Linked DNA regions of Homo sapiens: region 2 is linked to region 1. Evidence: fine-mapped expression QTL. A gene starts in region 1. The other region holds a variant in brackets. All regions are shown on one strand. Distances are between the middles of the regions.

Region 1 (5,375 bases):
GACTTCAGACATGTAAGAAAAATAAGCAAGACGTTAAGTTCATGTAGTTGACTTTGAGGGAGGAGAGGAAGTCCTGAAAGAGATGATGAAAGAAATCACACATTTATAGGCGGGATAGGTAATATTTCACAAATACTTATAAAAAAAATTTCTGGGGGGCAAGGCATGGTGGCCCGTGCCTGTAATTCCAGCACTTTGGGAAGCCAAGGCAAGTGAATCGCCTGAACTCGGGACTTTGAGACCAGCCTGGGCAACATGGCAAAACCCCGTCTCTACCAAAAATACAAAAATTAGCCGGGCATGGTGGCGCATGCCTGTGGTCCCAGCTACTCTGGAGGCTGAGGTGGGAGGATCCCTTGAGGCTGGGAAATGGAGGTTGCAGTGAGCCAAGATCATGCCACTGCACTCCAACCTGGGTGACAGAGTAAGACCTTGTCTCAAAAATAATAATAATTCTGGGACTATTGTGAGATAAAGAAAACAGAAAAACCCCACTGTAATATAACTGACTGATGAAAACCACATAAATTAGAAGAGGGGAATTTAGAGACAAGAGAAAATACATAATCAGCTCCAGCCTCTGATATTGGGCTGAGATAGCAGAGATATAGTTTTGTCACCCTCAATTATGCAGAGTAATGTTAAAGACAAACAGATAGGGTTATCTGTGATAAATCTGGGGCTAAGGTTATTGACCCACCCAGCAAATTGTGACAACCATCTTCCTGGAAGGTAGCATAGAGCTAGGAAGGTCCCAGGAATGAAGGGTGGACACAGAAGATCTCGTGTTTATGGGTCTTGAAGGATGGGTAGAATTTGGGGGAGGTTTAGTGGGAGAGAAGGGAAGATAGGAGATTGTTATAAGGAGCAGCTATTATGGGCTAGAAATATGCCTTCTTAGAATCAGTGCCTTCACCCGGACAAGATGGTGGGGGTTCAAGCTAGAATGGGAGCAATGAGAAAGATGGAAAAGAGTGGACAGATCTGAAAACTACTCAAAGGATAAAATCAACAGGACTTGACAGATTGCTTATGGAGGTGTATGAAGAAGAGTTTAGAATTACTTGAGTGTCTAGCTTGCAGAACTGAATGGTTATCAGATTCCATTCTTATAGAAGTCCAAAGGCTCCTAACCCGGCCTAAAACGCTCTGCATGACCCGACCACTGCCTACCCATCTCACCAGTCTCATCTGTACCCACTCTCTTCCCCTCCACATCTGAGCCCCAGGAACGATGCCCTTCTTTCCAGTTCCTTCCTACCACAGGGTCTTCCCACATGAGCTCTCCTCTGACTGAACAGCCCCTCCCATATTTTTTCCCTACCCAACCCCTATTCATCCTTAGGGTCTCAGCTTAAACGCCGGTTTCTTTGGAAAAATCTCTGCCAGTCTTCAGATAAGGTTAGAGACCCCTGATATTCAATTCTCATCTTGTTTCGCAGCATTTTGTGTATCGCCACCACGTCTGTAACCGGAGCGCCTAGTACAGTATCTGACCCTCAATAAGAGCTCGGTAAATGTTTATTGTTGAATGCGTCATTCAGTCAGTCGAAACAATCCCCGAAACAGATATTGCCAGAGGAAAAAGAGACTTTTAGATTATACAACTAGTGAGTGACCGGGCCTGGAACCTAATCGATTCCTGTGTGCCGACCAATAGCCTAACAACAGAAAAATAAGGCCCATTTTTCCCCTGGAGAAACTCATGGCCGATAAAGGAGAAATACGTGCATCCCGTCCGGACTGATACCTGGATCCCCTTTCTGCCCGCAGCTCTCCTTCCTTCAACCTCCCTATCGCACTTGCACTGCACCGTAATCCCGGCGCACAGGTGCCGCGCCATCCTCCCCACAGGGCCGCGGGCACGCGGGCCACGGACTCACCTGGGCCCCGCCCACCGACCCATGCAGCCGCAATAGGCACATGAGCCCGGGCAAATGTGGGGCCGAGCGGTTTGGGGGATGCACCGGAGCAACGGCAGACCCCGTTCGAGGTTGCAGCAAACCAGAAACACTCTCCAGCAGCAGCAGGCGGAGCCGCGGGCCCGAGCTCACTGCCGAGAGACCCCCGGTCCCGCCAGGAACCCCAGCCGCGGAGCCCGCAGAGGGCCCACTCAGAACGGCTGCCGCCATCTTCCCCCGGGTTCCAGTGGTGGCGTGGCGCGATGACGCAAACACACCGCGACGGCCGCCTACTGGGGAGGGGGCGTGGGGAGGGGGCTGCGGTCTTGCGCACTGAGTGAAGGCAGGCTGGACTCGCGGGCTCAAGCTGGGAAGGAGCATGCGCGGAGAGAGCAGCCTGGGCGCCGAGGCAGCGGGGTGCTCGGTTCCCGGAGTGATGGCGGATGAGGCTGCCTGTGAGCGTGTCCGAGGCGGTCCTGTGATGTTAAAGGTACACGTGGTCCGGACAAAAGGCGCCAAAGTCGGAACGATTTCCATTTAGCGGACGGAGTCTTGGGACATCTTCGCTGTAGGAATCAATAACTCTCATTTTTTTTTTTTGAGACGGAGTCTCGCTCTGTGGCCCAGGCTGGAGTGCAGTGGCGCGATCTCGGCTCACCGCAACCTCCACCTTCCAGGTTCAAGCGATTTCCCTGCCTCAGCCTCCCGAGTAGATGGGATTACAGTCGCGCGCCACCACGCCCGGCTAATTTTTTTTGTATTTTTGTAGAGATGGGGTTTCACCATGTTGGCCAGGATGGTCTTGAACTCCTGACCTCAGGTGTTCCGCCCGCCTTGGCCTCCCAAAGTGCTGAGATTACAGGCATGAGCCACCGCACCCTGCCTAGGAATCAGTAACGTGTGTGTGTGTGTACGCGCGCCAAAGATTTATTTCTTCATTTCTTGCATTTCAAGTACTCTTCGATGTCATCCTTGGCCTGAGACTCCTTGCCATAGTCCTTAACTACTACACAACTGCAACCAACCACTTTACGGGGTTTCCCCTCTCTGTCGATTTTTACAGAGCCCTACCCATTCTCCTAGTTTCTTGTTGTCATCAACCTTAATTAGGTTGATTTGGTGTTCAGCACAAAGGCCTCCACCAACTTGACATACATAGTAGGCTCATCATAGTTGGATGCAAGCACACAAAGATGGGCTTGGCGTTTGTCTAAGGCTTTGGCAGCTTCGCGAATTCCACGTGCTAGGTCATGGTGGATGAGAGCGGTCTTCAGCACCTCTTGTGAAGCAGTATTAACATCCATTACCCCTCCAGCAGCAATGCCTTCCTCGGCCGTGGCGGTGGGTTACAAGTGAAGCTGAATCTTGAAGGTACCCAAGCCTCCGCCTCCGCGCAACTCGGCAGCGGCAGGGAAAGAGAAGGAATCAATAACTCTCTAGGTAACTTGAAATCACAGACATTTTTAACTACATTTGCAACTTCAGAAATGATACAAGACGTGCGCCTTGCAAAAGCCAATTCAAACAGTACAGAAAGGCATAAAGTAAAAAGAAAAACTGCTCCTCCCCCGCAAAGCCCTGCCCCAGTAGCGTGTATACTTTCCTAATATTAGTCTATGCACAAGCACATAAATGAATATTTTACAAGATTGGGGTCTGCGTGTGGCTTGTTTTCACTCATGGCCTTCTTTATGCTGTTTTTTAAACTGTGGTATGAATGAAATGGGTGCACCATGATTTAATAATTCTATTGCTGAATTAATGCTTAAAGGCTGCTCCAGCTTTTTGCTAATGCAAACTGTAGTGAACACGCTAATACCTCTATGTTTATGTTTGTGTACTTTTGTGATTGTTAGATTCAAATCCAAGAGTCATCATTTTTCTTTTTTTGAGGAGTCTCTCTGTCGCCCAGGCTAGAGTGCAATGGCACGATCTCGGCTCACTGCAACCTCCGCCTCCCAAGTTCAAGTGATTCTCCTACCTCAGCCTCCCAAGTAGCTGGAAGTACAGGCACCCACCACCATGCCCAGCTAATTTTTGTATTTTTAGTAGAGACGGGGCTTCACCATGTTGGCCAGGCTGGTCTCAAACTCCTGACCTCAAGTGATCTGCCGGCCTCAGCCTCCCAAAGTCCTGGGATTACAGGTGTGAGCCACCCCACCTGGCCCGTTTTTCCTCTTATTGCCTCCTATCCAATCCTTCAAGTCCTGGCATTCAAGGCCTCCAAAATACATTAACCCAATAGCGTTAATTTTTCTCCATCTCCACTGCCGCTCCGGTCCAAATTACCATTCACTCTCACCTAGTCTATTACAAAGCCTTCGTTGCTCTCTGCTTCCCTCTTAGCACCCTGTAGTCCCTTCACACAGCAACCAAAGTGGTCTTTTCAAATGTAAACAAGTTGTTGTCACTCCTAGCTTCAACCCCTCTGTGGCTTCCAAATGTGATGAGAATGAAATCCCATCTCGTCACTGAGGCCTAAAAGAATCCACCCAATCTGACTCATACCCACCTCCCTGACCTCAACACATACCACAAGTACCCTTTTCCTTCTCTCTTCCTATTCTTGAGCCACGCTAGCCTTCTATTTTCCAGCAAAGCCCATTCTCACATCCGAACCTTTGCACATGTTGCTGATTATGCTGGAGAAACTGTCCTTTGATTCTATGTAACTAACGCCATTTTGCCATCCTGAGACGACTTCTTTTTCGGTAGCTCCCACTCCAACCCCCATCAGCCTCCATCACATTTGCCTGTTTATAATTCATGTCATTACCAGAAATTTGCTTTCTTATTAACTATCTCTTGTCTAAAATACAAACTCCATGAAAGGGCTCCTGTCTCCTACACTATGCTATTCCTATCACCTAGAACAGTGCCTGGTACATAAAAGGTGCTGAAAAAATATTTCCCCAGGCTGGAGTGCAGTGGCATGATCACAGCTCACTGCAGCCTTGACCTCCCAGCTCAAACGATCCTCCCACCTCAGCCTCCCTAGTACATGAGACTCTAGGCACTAGCCACTATATTTGGCTCATTTTTCGTTTTTCGGAGGTTTTTTGTTTTCTTTTTTCCTCGAGATGGAGTTTCGCACTGTCACCCAGGCTGGAGTGCAGTGGCGCGATCTTGGCTCACTGCAAGCTCTGCCTCCCAGGTTCAGGCCATTCTCCTGCCTCAGCCTCCCAAGTAGCTGGGACTACAGGCGCCTGCCACCATGCCGGCTAATTTTTTGTACTTTTTTGTGGAGACAGGGTTTCACCACGTTAGCCAGGATGGTCTTGATCTCCTGACCTCGTGATCCGCCCACCTCAGCCTCCCAAAGTGCTGGGATTACAGGCGTGAGCCACCACGCGCGGCCCGTTTGTTTTTGAGACGAAGTTTCACTATTCTCACTCAGGCTGGAGTATAACGGCACGATCTCAGCTCACTGCAACCTCCGTCTCCCAGGTTCAAGTGATTCTTCTGGCTCAGCCT
Region 2 (5,375 bases), 320 kb before region 1:
TCCCAAAGTGCTAGGATTACAGGCATGAGCCACTGCACCCAGCCTTTTTATGACTTTTTCATCATCAGAAACAGCTCCAAGGAAGCAGATGTAGCTCTTTAGAGTGGCCAGGGTGACAACAGTTCCTGGCGTGCTATGGGTGACACGGGCAGGAAACACAACTTCTGCTTAAAAGACAGCCTCAGTGAGCAGGTGACTGAAGACAAGGCTCATAAGGGGCTTGGGATCCGTGACCCTGAAAGGCGGGAGGGTGATTAAAAGCAATCACATGTGGTGGGCGCCTGTAGTCCCAGCTACTCAGGAGGCTGAGGCAGGAGAATTGCTTGAACCCGGGAGGTAGAGATTGCGGTGAGCGGAGATCATGCCATTGCACTCTAGCCTGGGCAACAAGAGCAAAACTCCGTCTCAAAAAAAAGCAGTCACAATGTGGGAATGGCATCCCCCAGCCTGGGACTGCCCTGAGCCTGTGGCTCAGGACATCAGCATTTGATGCCACTCTTCCAGGTTCATAGACATGCTGTGAGCAGAAAAGTCCAGACTCTTGGTGTCGGCCCAGACTGCAGAAGCCAAAGAGTGGTGGTGCCCTTTCTGGCTGCTGTGATGACAGCCAAGGTTTCCTCCTCCTCTTCGCACAGTGGGTAGGTCCCTGCTGGGGCTAACAGGTTTCTGGATTTTTATTGATTGCCCAGCACTGGCTGGTGAGAAACAGTACCTGTGCTGAAATTGCCAATTTACCAGTCTCCTTTCCCCAAATGGCAGTGCTGAGACTAAAGGCTGGCTCTGAAATATTGACAGCCTCACTTCCTGCCTGCCAATTCAGTTTTGTCATGTAATAAAAAGGGAATACAACCTCACAGGATTACTGTGAAGATTAAATGAGAAAATGCAGACAAAGGCTCAGCAGAATACTTGGCATGCCGTAGTTGCTCAGAAATTCCCTTCTTGCTTTGTCCTTCAAGGCTTAACATAAATATTGTCTTTTTTTTTTTTTTTTTTTTTGGAGACACGATCTCACTCTGTGATCTAGGCTGTAGTACAGTGGTACCATCATAGCTCACTGCAGCCTTGACCTCCTGGGCTCAAACGATCCTCCCACCTCAGCCTCTGGAATAGCTGGGACTACAGGCATTCGCCACCACACCTGGCTGATTTTTAGATTTTTTTTGTAGAGCCAGGGATCTCACTATGCTGCCCAGGCTGATCTTGAACTCCTGGCCTCAAGTGATCCTTCAGCCTCAGTCTCCCAAGTCTTTGGGATTATAGGCATGAACAGTGGTTCATGACATGGCCTCACAAATATCATCTGACACATTAAATTCCTTTAACACCTCACCTCACCTAGACCCCAAATCAGCCCTTTTCGGGAATCCCAAGACCTTTTGCCCATTCTTTTGTTTTTTTGTTTTGTTCTTTTGTTTTTGTTTTCGCTCTTGTTACCCAGGCAGGAGTGCAATGGTGCGATCTCCGGTTCACTGCAACCTCCGCCACCTGGGTTCAAGCAGTTCTCCTGCCTCAGCCTCCCGAGCAGCTAGGATTACAGGCCACCATACCCAGCTAATTTTGTATTTTTAGTAGAGACGGGGTTTCTCCATGTTGGTCAGGGTGGTCTCGAACACCCAACCTCAGGTGATCCACCCACCTCGGCCTCCCAAAGTGCTGGGATTACAGGTGTGAGCCATCGTGCCCAGCCGTGAGCCACAGAGCCCGGCGGTTTTTTGTTTGTTTGTTTGTTTTGAGAGGTAGTATCACTCTGTCACCCAGGATGGAGTGCAGTGGTGAGATCTCGGTTCACTGCCACTCCCACCTCCCGGGTTCAAGCAATTCTCCTGCCTCAGCCTGCTGAGTAGCTGGGACTACAGGCGTGTGCCACCATGCCTGGCTAATTTTTGTATTTTTAGTAGAGATGGGGTTTCACCATGTTGGCCAGGCTGGTCTCGAACTCCTGAACTCAGGTGATCCACCCGCCTTAGCTTCCCAGAGTGCTGGGATTACAAGCGTGAGCCACCACACCCACCCTTGCCCATTCTTTACAGGGGCCCATGCAGATACACAGGGATAAAGGAACCCACAGTGTGATGAGTATGAAGAGGCTGTGAGCTGATTCCTTAATGGTTCAAAATCCTGGGAGCTGAATTTAACATTTCTTTCTTTCTTTTTTTTTTTTTTTTTTTGAGACAGAGTCTCGCTCTTGTTGCCCAGGCTGGAGTGCAATGGCACCATCTCAGCTCACCGCAACCTCCGCCTCCCAGGTTCAAGCCATTCTCCTGCCTTAGCCTCCCAAGTAGCTGGGATTACAGGTGCTAGCCATCATGCCCAGCTAATTTTTTGTATTTTTAGTAAAGACAGGGTTTCACCATGTTGCCCAGGCTGGTCTTGAACTCTTGACCTAAAGTGATCTGCCTGCCTCGGCCTCCCAAAGTGTTAGGATTACAGGTGTGAGCCACCACACCTGGCCAAACTTAACATTTCTAAGCAACAGATCATTTTTTTTTTTTCTTTTTTCTTTTTTTTTTTTTGAGATGGAGTCTAGCTCTGTCACCCAGGCTGGAGAGCAGTGGCCCGATCTTGGCTCACTGCAAGCTCTGCCTCTCGGGTTCACACCATTCTCCTGCCTGAGCCTCCTGAGTAGCTGGGACCACAGGCGCTCACCACCACGCCTGGCTAATTTTTTGTATTTTTAGTAGAAATGGGGTTT[C/T]ACCGTGGTAGCCAGGATGGTCTTGATCGCCTGACTTCATGATCCGCCCACCTCTGCCTCCCAAGCAGATGGGATGACAGGTGCATGCCACCACACCCGGCTAGTTTTTGTATTTTTTGTAGAAATAGGGCTTCACCATGTTGCTCACGTTGGTCTTGAACTCCTGGGCTCAAGTGCCTTGACCTCCCAAAGTGCTAGGATTACAGGTGTGAAATAATTCCTTAATATCATCAAATATTCAGTGTTCAAATATTCCCACTGTCTCATCATCATCATCATCATTCTATTTATAGTTTGTTTGAATCATGACCTGAAAAAGATCCATAGGCCAGGTGCAGTGGCTCATGCCTGTAATCCCAGAACTTTGGGTGGCCGAGGCGGGCGGATCACCTGAGGTCGGGAGTTCGAGACCAGCCTGACCAACATGGAGAAACCCCATCTCTACTAAAAATACAAAATTAGCCGGGCGTGGTGGCGGATGCCTGTAATCCCAGCTACTTGGGAAGCTGAGGCAAGAGAATCTCTTGAACCCAGGAGGCAGAGGTTGCAGTGAGCCGAGATCGTGCCATTTCACTCCAGCCTGGGCAACAAGAGCGAAACTCCATTTCAAAAAATAAAAAATAAAAAAGATCCATAAGTTTTGGTTGGTTAATGTGTCTCTTAAGTTTCCTTTAATCACTAGGTTCCCTCTTCTAAAATCTTTCTGTTTTCCTTGCAATTTATTAAAGAATATTTGTCATGTGTTCCTATACAGTTTCCTAAAATCTGGATTTAAGGCCGGGTGCGCTGGCTCATTCCTGTAATCCCAGCACTTTGGGAGGCCGAGGTGGGCGGATCACCCGAGGTCAGGGGTTCCAGACCAGCCTGGCTAACATGGTGAAACCCCATCTCTACTAAAAATACAAAAAATTAGCCAGGCTTGGTGGTGGATGCCTGTAATCCCAGCTACTTGGGAGGCTGAGGCAAGAGAATCATTTGAACCCGGGAGGCGGAGGTTGCAGTGAGCCGAGATGGCGCCACTGCACTCTAGTCTGGGCAATGAGTGAAACTCCATCTCAGAAAACAAACAAACAAATAGAAAAAAACAAATAAAATCTGGGTTTTACTGATTGTGTCCTCATGGTATCATTTAACATTCTTATTTTCTTTATTTCGTGTAAAGCAGTAGTCGGATCTAGCAGCTTGATCACCTTTGGGGTTGATTTTGTTCCTAGACTCTTTCATATGCAGTATTGGGTACTTCCATTAAGAGGTACATCATTCTGATTTTTCTTTGTTTCCTAGTTTTTCTTTCTTTTTTTGTTTTCTCTGTTTTGTTTTGAGACAGGGTCTCACTCTGTTACTCAGGCTGGAGTGCTGTGGCAGGAACATAGTTCACTGCAGCCTCGACCCCCCGGGGTTCAAGCAATTCTCTAGCCTCAGTCCCCCAAGTAGCTGGGACTATAGGCACTTGCCACCACACCTGGCTAAATGTTGTCTTTTTTGTAGAGATGGAGTTCTCCATGTTGCCCAGGCTGGGATAGTCTCTAATAGGGTTTATAGTGGACCTTTTTAATATTATCATCACCCAGCATCTTTTTTTTTTTTTTTTTTTTGAGACAGTTTCTGTCTGTTGCCCAGGCTGGTGTGCAGTAGTCCGATCTCGGCTCACTGCAACCTCCGCCTCCTGGGTTCAAGGGATTCTCTTGCCTCAGCCTCCCGAGTAACTGGGATTACAGGTGTGTGCCACCACGCCCAGCTAATTTTTGTATTTTTAGTAGAGATGGGTTTTCACCACATTGGCCAGGCTGGTCTCAAACTCCTGGCCTCAAGTGATCAGCCCGCCTCTGCCTCCCAAAGTGCTGGGATTACAGGTGTGAGACACCGCGCCTGGCCATTCAGAATCTTTTTGAAAACCCATTCTATGTCAAGACATGATGAGTTCTGCCTCCCCAAGGTAGAAGCTAGACTCCTGTACCTAGCTTCCCTAGCACTCAGGCATACAGTGTAGGCTCATCCAATCAGATGCAGCTGATATCCATTCAGAGGTGAGCTGTACGAGGATGAGAATGCTGTAGAGACACGGAGATTTTTTTGTTTGTTTATTTTGTTTGTTTTCAGACAGAGTCTCTATCACCCAGGCTAGAGTGCAGTGGCACGATCTCGGCTCACTGCAACCTCCGCCTCCTGGGTCCATGCGATTCTCCTACCTCAGCCTCCCAAGTAGCTGGGACTACAGGTGCCCACCAGCACGCCTGGCTAATTTTTTGTATTTTTAGTAGAGACGGAGTTTCACTGTGTTAGGCAGGACGGTCTGAATTTCCTGATCTTGTGATCCACCTGCCTCGGCCTCCCAAAGTGCTGGGATTACCGGCGTGAGGCACCGTGCCTGGCTGACACAGAGCTTTTGAGGGCAGTGGGAGTGGAGGCCCCAGGAGTAGAGATACTCCTTCCACTTTTGAGCTGCAGTGGCTATTGATGGCAAAAAGCAGAGGCTGTGCTGATAACAGTCCAGGAGCAAAATTTGGGTATTGTTCCTGGCCAAGTAGCCTCCAAGCCCAATTCTCTATCCCTCTCAGAGACTGTGTGAGTCATTTATATCTTTAAATACATTCCTTGGCTGCTTAAACTAGTTAGAGTAGATTCTGTTGTTGTAGCTAAGTTCCGTGACAATTATGAGGCTTCCATGATGTAGCTCAAT

Which allele goes with the higher level. Positions count from the first base shown, and alleles are read on the strand shown. Sizes are in standard deviations (SD) of each study's normalised expression.
In carriers of allele C in region 2, the expression in whole blood of the gene that starts at base 2,158 in region 1 tends to be lower than with T alone (moderate effect, 0.42 SD a copy in TwinsUK).

What was found. PIP is the estimated chance that this variant, and not a neighbour inherited with it, causes the effect.
Region 2: its variant is fine-mapped to the expression of PELP1 in whole blood (TwinsUK, PIP 0.95).

The regions. Positions count from the first base shown.
Region 1 is chr17:4,701,980-4,707,354 of GRCh38, forward strand. It overlaps PELP1 (proline, glutamate and leucine rich protein 1), which reads right to left and starts at 2,158. Exons shown (of 17, transcript NM_014389.3): 1 at 1,884-2,158. The coding sequence starts at 2,132. PELP1-DT (PELP1 divergent transcript) reads left to right here and starts at 2,251. Exons shown (of 2, transcript NR_103482.1): 1 at 2,251-2,391; 2 at 3,220-3,550. It also overlaps the pseudogene RPS12P29.
Region 2 is chr17:4,381,321-4,386,695 of GRCh38, forward strand. No RefSeq gene overlaps it. Among named protein-coding and RNA genes, the nearest start is that of UBE2G1, 17 kb to the left of the region's middle. RefSeq lists an enhancer at 1,464-1,963. The variant C/T (reference allele first, on the strand shown) is at 2,696.